2 separate regions of the Homo sapiens genome follow, and region 1 is linked to region 2. The links come from fine-mapping of genetic effects on gene expression. Tissue or cell type: whole blood. Region 2 holds a variant in brackets; the other region holds the start of a gene. All regions are shown on one strand. Distances are between the middles of the regions.

The links. PIP is the estimated chance that this variant, and not a neighbour inherited with it, causes the effect.
Region 1: PSMD6-AS2 starts here. The variant in region 2 is fine-mapped to the expression of PSMD6-AS2 in whole blood (TOPMed, PIP 0.96).

The regions. Positions count from the first base shown.
Region 1 is chr3:64,002,044-64,007,043 of GRCh38, reverse strand. PSMD6-AS2 (PSMD6 antisense RNA 2) reads right to left here and starts at 3,022. Exons shown (of 3, transcript NR_038286.1): 1 at 976-3,022. ATXN7 (ataxin 7) reads right to left here. Exons shown (of 13, transcript NM_001377405.1): 13 at 3,582-5,000.
Region 2 is chr3:63,962,931-63,968,326 of GRCh38, reverse strand. All of the region lies in intron 5 of ATXN7 (ataxin 7), which reads right to left. Among named protein-coding and RNA genes, the nearest start is that of PSMD6-AS2, 38 kb to the left of the region's middle. RefSeq lists enhancers at 1-14, 3,283-3,787. The variant C/T (reference allele first, on the strand shown) is at 3,265.

The DNA of each region.
Region 1 (5,000 bases), 39 kb before region 2:
TTTTCTTGAAACCCTCTGGGTTAGAGACTGTTTATTCATATGCACCTCAGGAACTTGAGGCCAAGATGAAGTTCACTGTTTCCTAGTCCTTTGCTTGTTCTCCTGGCCATTATGTTTCCACCTTCATTCAAAATGCCTTCTCTTTGAAGCTGCTTATAACCCAGCAACACCATCAACTCACTGTGCTCACTGTCCTCAATCACACATCTCCAAGTCACTCTCCCCTCTTCCATGCAAATCATCCCAGAACCAAGCAACCCTAATTTGAAATGGACAACCTATACAACACCCTTGGCTTCACAGTTCCTCAGCCTGAATTCCAGTGCTCTTTTCCTCCATGCTGCTTCTGTCCACTGCCATGGTTTCCACCCAGGAATCACAAGCACCTCTGGCCAGTTCTGCTTTTGAAAATAATACTGGAATTCCAATTCCTCTGGCCAGTTCTGCTTTTGAAAGTAATACTGGAATTCCAATTCCTCCATTCCCTGTCCTATTCCTAAAAGTGCTGTATCACTTTGATAACTCTGGCCCCTGGATCTCACCTTGTAGCCCCTCACTTTTATTGGCCATGTGGAATTAAATGTGGACTTTGCTCTGTGACCCTGAACAAATCAATTGTCTAATCATAGAAAAAGTTACCTGGAAGGAGATTCCTAAGACCTAACAAGAAGATAATTCCAGTCAAACCAATGTCTTAAGAGCACCTGCATAGATTCTACATGGTTGGCTTCTAGTTCTCTTCCCTGAATACCCAGTTCAGACCATCATCAATCACTCAGCCACATCTTCACTCTTTGGCAATCTCCCTGCTCAAGTTCTATCTTTTCCACCCAACCAATACATGCTGTTCCAATTATCCTGGAGAAAACAGCAGGGCAATAAAACGTTAACTAAATAGGTAGATAGCATTGGTAATTATAATGGGATTGACTCAAAACATCTAACCCTGTAAACCATCTCAATGCCTTCCCTTACCTCTCTTTTTACTCTACTGCTCCTTCTCCATTTGTCTTCATGAAAATAGTCTTCTCCAAGGTTTTGTCCTGGGTTTTCTCTCTGGGCCATGGAGGATGGGCTTCAGGTTTGTGATATCCTGGAAGCGGAATATAAAAATGTGGTGTGCCTGTGCCTCGGTCAGACAGGATGCATAACTTCATGTGACTCCTGGAGTCTGAGGAGGGAAAAAATTAAGAATCACTGTTCTGACAGACCTGAATTACCCTGGATCTGCCACCTATTCGTTGTGGGACCTTAAGCAAGATACCTTCTTAGGAGTTCCAATCAGTATGATTGGAATCAAAATACCTGCCCTATGAGGGCTTAGTAAAAGAGAGGATGTATATAAAATGCTTGGCACAGTATCTGGCATATTAAGTACTTCACTAGAGAAGTATTATTTTAACATAATAATAAGCCAAATCGAATAGCTACTTAATTTTCCCAGGTAAACTCCATCTACCCTTATGACCTCACTGATGATCTAAAACTGAAAGACAACTCTCCATCTTTATTTTCCAGCTCAAACCTCCCTCCTAAAGTCCAACCAGCCTGTACAGCCAGCTGGGCACTAAACCAGAATTTCCCACCAGCAGCTCAAATCTATCGTTATGTCTTTTTCCTTCTCTGTTACCATATCGCACATTTCACTTAAAGCTCAATTGGTTTGGCCAAGCTAGAAACCTGAAGTCTTCTTAGACTCACTCTTCCCTTTAATGTTGAACAGAGTTAGACCTCAAGGCTTGTTGGTTCTACTTTTTAAAGATTTCTGAAATCAGTATCACTTATCCTCACAGTCAGCCTTCGTTTGGAAACTTAATAGCTCTTACCTGGATTACAACAGCTTTGTAACTTATTTTTGTCCCAAGGTTCTCACCTGTTGATTCTGTCTTCCATTGTTATTGGAGGGCCATAGGTGGCAGAGATGTTTTTTCCACAAAGTATTAAATTATAAGTGATTCTCCCCTTCCCCCTGGAGACTTTTTCTTTGGCTGATAGCCTCACTCTCCCTTACCTCCTAAGAGATATTCTGGTCCATGGTCTTTGGATGTAGAAAATGAGGATAACAAGTGCCAAGAATTACAGCCTTACAAGGTGAAATACTACTTTAATTAACTTCCATTAACAACAGGAGCAAGAACTTCTTACAGAAAGAGGAGACTAAGAAAGGAGTGAGAAGGGAGAGGAACTTAAGAGTTGATTTAGGGGAGTGCTTTTTGTTAGGACTGGGGACAGGGGCAGGTAAAGACAGATCTTTGAAGCAAAAGAGAGTGAGAATGCAAGACATGGGGAAAGAGACTTAAGTGCTCCTTTGCTTTTCCACAGTTTTCAGTACAGATTTGAATGGCTTTGACTTTTGGCAGCTGCACAGTGCTAGGACTGGACCATGAAATATCTCTGGGCTCTGACAATTACATTTGGGTTAATCTAAGCCTGATCCCATGTGTTCCTGGAAGAGAAGCCCCATGACATTCAAAGTCCTTGACAATCTGACACCAGCTTTTCTAACCCTATAAGGCCCTTCCATCCAGCAAACTTCCTGCAGAATTATTCTCTATCCCTCACATGTTCATACCCATGCTCGACGCATTTGCTCTCTCTGCCTAGAATCTTACTCTTGTCTGCCTTTCTGCCTGGTTAAATCCCACATACGCCAAGATCCAACACTGCTAAACCCCTTTCCTTGAGTTGGGATCATCTTGTTATGCAGGGCCGGGATACCTGCAAGGGAATGGAATTAAAAAGGTTAAGAGATTGAGCAGTTGAACCTTTTCTTGGGAGGTTTGAGGACAAGCCATAGTGAAAGGATTTACCTACAGAGAGCACCTCATTATTAGATTTGTGGAAAGTACTGAGTGGATGGTTGACTCAAGTAAGGAGGGAATGGGAAGTCCACAGGGCAGTAGGAACTGAAGCCAACATGACTCTTTCATATCAGGTATGGACATTCTTGCTAACACACAGCGGTTCCTCCTCTTATTTTAAGCAACAAAAATAATTTATCAGAATGGTTTATTTGCAAACAGTAAAAATGTCTGGATTTCTAGAGGTAAATGATTATGCTGTGTTCCAAATAATACTAAAATGCACTTGTATTGCCAGTAAGGGAGGTATGTAAAAGAAAGGAAGAGATTAGACCGGGTCTGGATAAAAAGCTTATCTTAAACCAAAACTACATGTCATCAAATTTGCACCTAAGTACAAATAGAATGTGTTTCTCAATCCATCAACTCCCTCGTTTCTTTCACAAACATGCAAGGCCAGAATACAGTAATGTTCACTGTTTACACAGTTACTAATTTATCCAAAGCAAAGCTTTGTGCCCCCAGATGGAAACATCCCCAGGCCTTAGAAGTATTTAGCTTATATAAGAGGAAGGCTAAATTGAAGGGGCTTCACAAGGGTGTTCCATGCCAAAAGTGATGAAAAGTCAGAGTAGACTGAAAGGGTTTAGTATCACAACGAGGCAGAAACGTACAATATTTCATGCAGCCAACCTTATTTATTGAGAAGTCCTAATTTTATTGCCCGTTTAGTAACATGTTTGTTCCACAAGCTAATTTCTTATAAAGCAAAGCACAACCTTTTCTTATAAATAGTATAAATTATTTTATTTACAGAAACTTGTTACAAAACAAATAGACTATATATTTCTTCTCTTTTAAATATCCAAAGTAATTTTCTATCCCTTGACATTTGTTCATGTTCTATACAGCAGCCAACACAAAGTCCAGCTGAGATGCTCTTGATTATGTGTACAAATTATCAAACTATTCACACGTTTTTAACACAGGAGATTGCTTTTATAACCAAGCTCAAAAAAAAAAAAAAAAAAAAAAAAGCAAAATGCTTTCAAGGCCCTACATTCACACTGACAGTATGTAGTGCTCATTTAAATTATCTGAAAATGTAAAATGTTTTGCACAAAATGTAAAAGTGATTATTTTCTGCTAAACAAACTTTTAAGAATATTTTTTCAAAGCCCAATCGCCCCAAACCCCCTGGACAGAATGAGCGACATTAAGAAATTCCTTGGCAACAGAACTCTTGCAGGAAGACAGCTGCCCTTATAAGTTACATTTTTCAAATTATACATTTTTTTCAATGTTCTCAGAGGTACTTCTTTGTATTATATTTTTGGAATACAAAATATTTTAAATATTTTAAATTGTATTTCATGAGTGAATAACAAAACGGACACATCGTGTAAGTTGCTGGCTGACAAAAAGATCTGTAACCCTTGGTGCCACCAGGCAATCCATCACCAATTGAATTACTATGAACCAAGAGGTCTTAATTTTAAAATACCTTATAAAATTACCAGCATTGGTGGTTTTCAACTCCGCCCCTAAAATTTTAGAAACAATATTTAGGTGGAAAAAGCAAACTCCAAAAGTTCAACTGAACATTCAAGTCTTTTTAAAGAGATTCTGTCTAAGCTTAAAACTAGTTTCAGGCACTTTCAGTTTTTTCCATTAGTTTTAAACCACATCACATAGTAACATACATGTGCTGAGTATACACACACACGCACAGGCACACACACACGCAGTCACATACTCCCACACATAAAATACTAACAAAAGAAAAGCAGTGTGTCACTTAGTTACATGTAGTCTATCGGGAAACCAGGCAACCAGGAAGAAGCAATGCCCACTTCATCTGTATGAATCCACTCCCGAGACACTAAAAGGGACAAAGACTTTTCACAGAACAGAGGCATCCCTTAAAACTGTAAAGGAGGCAGGTTCTAGAACTATTGGCTTGGCAGTGAACCACTTCAAATTATAAAAAGGTATTTACTTTTATTAATTAATAAATAAATACTAGATGATCTCAATTGTACCAAAACAGGATATCAGAAAAAAAGACCTGTGCAAAAATACATATTTAAATATGTACAATTCATTTTTAACAAAATATGTCTTCTGAAATAGGGATACTTCCATATTTATAATAGAACAAGAAATTCCAAAATAAAGATACAAAAGTAGGTTTTGTAT
Region 2 (5,396 bases):
AATAACAAACTCGGCTCCCGTCTGCATCTGAACTTTGGCCAGATCACTCAAATGACATTTCAGAATGGCTTCTGTGGACAGCTTGCAGCAGCTAATCCCTGTGGCTGCGATTACCCACGCTGATCCCCTAGCTCTGCAGGCTCCCTCCCTCCACTACTTGAGCAGCAGAACCCTCCTGGCCTGCTGGCAAGGCAAGACAAATGCCAGGAGGAAAAAGGCCTGCATAAACTCTTCCCAAATCTGCTTGGTTCTATGTAAGGTTAGCAAAGACCTACCCCACCGTCCACAGGCTCATCCAGAGCTGGGCCCTGAGCCAAGCCCAGACTCTGAAAACTGCCTCAGAAAACTTACCCAGTGGAGCTTTCAGCTCCTGCGCAGAAGGGCTGCTTTGGAGAGGCGTCTTGCTACCTTCCATTCACAGAATTTGGTTGTGCTTCATTGCACACTTGCTACTGCAGGCTTGCATCATGATTTGGGTCTGCCCACCAACTCCAAATATGCTCCATGTTTGGGCTTATGTAACATTTGCTACTACTGTAAAAAGCACTTGAATTACAAAGGTCCTGGCAGATCAACAGAAAACAGGGGGTGGAGTCTAATTTCATCTAATATGGTCATACAAGGCGTCCTGGCTGGTGTAAATTAATCTTTCTATTGGAAAGGCAACTTGTCAAAACTGGGGAAGATGGAATTTATAAGTTTAACCTGCTAAAATGCAAATTACTTATATTTTGTGAATTTTTTTTCTGAATACCTTTAAACTGACAAAGCTACTACCAGGTATATTACAAAACTTACATGATTTATTTAAAAACCTACATTTTAAGTCTCGGTAGACCTAAAGGTCTTAAAGTTAAACATTTCTATAAAATACCTGCAGCATTTTTCCAGGTTTTATTTCCCCTATACTATCTACAGTTGCTAAGCTTTTCAAAAAAAGTTTATTATTCCTAAGCATACTTTTCCTTCCTAAATCTAGTAACAAAATATCTGAACCCACTTTCTGTGCATATTTGTAAAATATGTATAATTTCATATCCACATTTGTCCAGTTTGTTGTTCAATCACTAGAGGACTGACTAAAGCTTTCATACTTTTAAATCCAAGAATTTCTCTCACTGAGTGCCCCCTTGAAAACAGTGTCTTCCTGGCCTGTTTCCCTATCATCCCTATCACACTCCCTCTCTCTGGCCAATCAACAAATCTACTGTCAAATGACACAGAATGGGGTGTAATGGCTCACACCTGTAATCCCAACTACCTGGGAGGGTGAGGCAAGAGTCCAGGAGTTTGAGGCTGCAGTAAGCTATGACTGTGCCACCGCACTCCAGCCCAGGTGACAGAGTTCTAATAAAAACAAAACAACAACAAAAAATCCCCACAAGTGACATGGAAAAAACTGCCAAGTGATCTGAGTTTTATGATAATAATGACTTAGATACCTGATAGTTCAAAATGAACTCTTTTAAATGTCAAAAGAAGCAGCAAAAGATTCTTCTACAGAATCCTATCACCCCATACAGAATATTTGGCAAAAGTCATGAATTACATATGTGGAAATGATTTAGCCTGAAAGGTGCGGGGAAGAGTTCTGAGAGAGGCATGAAAACGGCTTCTATTAGACCAAATTCTAAATTGACTCTAAAACAGAAGAACAGTAGCTGCACTGCCCTATTTTCACAAGGATTCAGATCCCAACCCATGTCAACAATACTAAGACCCAGGGGGTTTTCTGAAACCCACTTTTTTTCCCCCAGATTCCTTACAGTAACGTTCATACAATCCAAAACTATGGAAGCCCTTAGAAGACACTAGAAGAACGCAAGGGAAGAGCCATCAGCAAGCCTTAGAAGCACAGGATGAGGATACATCTCCCAAATCTTTTTAAAAGCTCATAAGCGAAAATAAGAATTTTAAGTTAATTCACTGAAGCTTTTCTTAAGCTAGAAAAAAAAAATTCCATGGCTGTAAAACCTGATTGCCACAGGTCTTAGTATTGTTCACCCTACTTCACCTGCCCTCCCTGCAGGGGTAGCCAAGGAATCTCCTTAATGCCATCAATAGCAGAAAAGAACAGGGTAGGAGGATCTTTCTGGAGCTAAATCTCACTTCCCTATCACTGTACTTGTATGACAGAACACCAGAGTCCTTGCTGGCCTTCCTAGCACAAATGCTTGCCTTTCTAATATTCCCTTTCGTACACAGTGATTGTACGAAATACAGTGGGGAAAAATATCGTTATGAGAGTCAGCCAATCCAAGACAGTTCTAAGAATCAAGTCGTTCTGCAACCCTGTAAAAAACCAGGGTGAATTTTAGCAAATGTTCTTAAATGCTACAAACAAACGTCTATATTTAAGTTCACAAATAAACAAGAGAAAAACGAATTTTAACTTATTTTTAAGACCTACATCAGAAAAGGGATGAATGGTCGTGTATGCCAGGAAAATATTAATTTTGTACACATACACAGAAATTGAGAACAAAGCTCAGATTAAAATTTTAAACACTCACATGTGCCCCCTTAATGCCCTGAATAAAATGTTTAAGCAAATACTGCTTTGTTCTGCTTGTAAAGCATTATCACAATTTTCTTCAAACCGTTTCTCGATATCCTATCCAAATAAAGTTTATTTTGATATTAAATATCCCAATGATGGCTCAGACGTTAATTGTCTAGGTCTGGGGACATGGTCATATTTCTTTTTCCCTAAGAAAAAAATTAAGACTACAGACTAAAAAAATACTACAGACTAAAATAACATCTTAATAGAATAACATCCGTGCCTCACTGACCGAAAATTATATGTATCAGCTGTGGTTTGGATGGTGTACACATGTCAATTTTACTCTAGTGCACAAAGGGAGTTCTGAACTGTGCATTAGCCTATTCGCAGCAAACAGGCAAACTTGCAGGAGGCTAGGAGGAACACTCAAGGTTTGGGTTCAGGGGGCAGCCAGCCTGCAGTCTGAGCACTTCTAGTTGTGCAGCCGTGGGCAAGAGACTCAGGAGAGCTAAGGACTGATACTGCCTCCTCCCACAAGCCTGGGGTGAGGAGTAAATTTGAGATAATGCAGGTAATGCAACGCCCAGCACTTGTTAAACGTTCAGCAAATGTTAGCTATTATGATTACAACCAAGGAGAAACTGGATGGATGATAGAGGAGTTAAACAGAAACAGAAAAACTGAGGTTTCTATTATAGAAATTAGTCAAGTCCCCTACAAATCTTGGGATTTCCTAAACTGAATCCTTGAGAAGCCAG[C/T]AGAGGTGTCATTCAGTGCTCTGGAGGGCAATAAACAAGCTGTTGGCAGTTATGAAATACTGTGTTCCTATCATTGGTGAAAGCCAGTTCTCCATTTTACAGGAATACAAGTCTCCACTAACTCCACTTCACTGTCTCAGCAGGCCGGGTGAGTTATAATTGGCCTTAATTGGCACTTACAGGAGCTTTAACATTCCTTACCTGCTGCCAAGGAGCACTTGAAAGGGGAAAAAAGTATTTTCAAACTTGGAAATACCAAGCAATTCATTCGGCTGTGGGCCTGGAAGCCTGCTATCCAGAATCAGATTAGCTTCACCTAGAAATGTTGCTATGTTATTATCCAGAGCTCATTAGGTACTCACACTGGATTAGGAGAGGTGGGAGATGAAATTTAAATGGGGATAATTCACCTTGGGGGCTAAAACCATGCAGCAGCCTTCCTCCAGCTGATCTTTTGGTCGATGGCTCTCCAGGGCTCAGCCACACTTCATGTGTGTAAGGCAGGCAAATAAAATATATCTTCATGGCCTGATTTACACAGGCTTTGAGTTAACCACAGCGTGACCTCAGCCCAGTCATTATTTGAAACACACAATGAACACCTTTATAAGGTGACCAGTCATACCAACTGCAAAGAGGATAGGGAGATCAGAAACAAAACTGGCCATAGTTTTTCCTTGGCCTTGCAATTAATCACACTCAAAATTATGATCCTCTAGGAGGCCTCACATTTTGCACAGGGGAATCCTAGCATAAGAGAATGAGATTTCTTCCTTAAATTCCATACAGAATGAATAGAAACTTCCCATAGACGCCCGAGAAACTGCCTATAATTGTTTAAATATTTTTTAAAATAATCACTCGTTTTGAAAGATCTCTTTGTCTCATATTATTAAGTATTACTAGACTTGTGGTTGTTTGAGGAATTTATTTCAAATTAAAATTAATCATACGTGTGTGTGTGTGTGTGTGTGTGTGTGTGTGTGTGTTTATGTGTCTAAGGAACATTGTAAGAGGCTTTAGAAAATTAAATGGAAGCTTAGAAAAATAAATACAACACCTACTCCTTTGGAGATAACTCTCATAGTGGCTGGTAGAGATATAAAGCATTACAGCCTTTTTGGAAAGCAATCCAGCAGCAGCTATTAACACTGCAAATAACTAGTCTTTTGTGACCCAGGAATCCCTTCCTGAGACTCTATCCCACAGAAACTAAACCACCAGTAATTAAGTATGTATGTACCAGAGTGGGTACTGCTGTTTGGTTCACACAGACAAAAAGCAAGAAACAAAATGAATGTCCATAGAGGGCCTGGCAGAGGAAGCTACAGCACAGCCACACTTTAGAGCAGTATGCAACCATTAAAAAGAGGGGATTAGTGTTATCCAGGGCTGTGAATGGATTTACATGAGGTATTGTTGAGTAGAAAAGGAGCAGAAGTGTGCATAATAGGATCCACTTTTTTGTAAAACTATCACCAAAAGCCCCTACTAATAAAATACGTGATTCTATGTGCCTGGATAGAGTTAGAAGCATGAGAAAAATATACAAGGATGCATATTAAGTTACATACTAAGAATGCAGCATGTATGATTTATAGCGTAGCATGGACTGCTACAGTTAGAGAAGGCAGGTAAGTTGAAAGAGCCAATGAAATAAGAAAAAGGCTGCACTGAAAATAGTTGAGATGATTACATTTGTGTATTTATATAAAAATACGTTATAGGTGTATATATTTCATATATTCATATGCCAATCAAAAAATCTATAAAGAAACAGGTCTAAAAAATTTGTGTTACAAAAATGCACTGTGAAGGTAGCTAAGAAAAATTAAATACAAAATTCTGGCCGAGTGTGGTGGTTCACACCTGTAATCCCAGCACTTCAGGAGGCAGAGGCAGGTGGATTGCTTCAGCCCAGGAGTTTGAGACCAGCCTGGGCAACATGGTGAAACCCTGCCTCTACAAAAAATACAAAAATTAGCTAGGTGTGGTGGCGTGTGCCTGTAGTCCCAGGTACTGGAAGGGCTGAGGTGGAAGGATTGCTTGAGCCCGGGAGGTGGGGGTTACAGTGAGCCAAGATCACGCCACTGCACTCTAGCCTGGGCAAGAGAGTGAGAATCTGTCTTGAA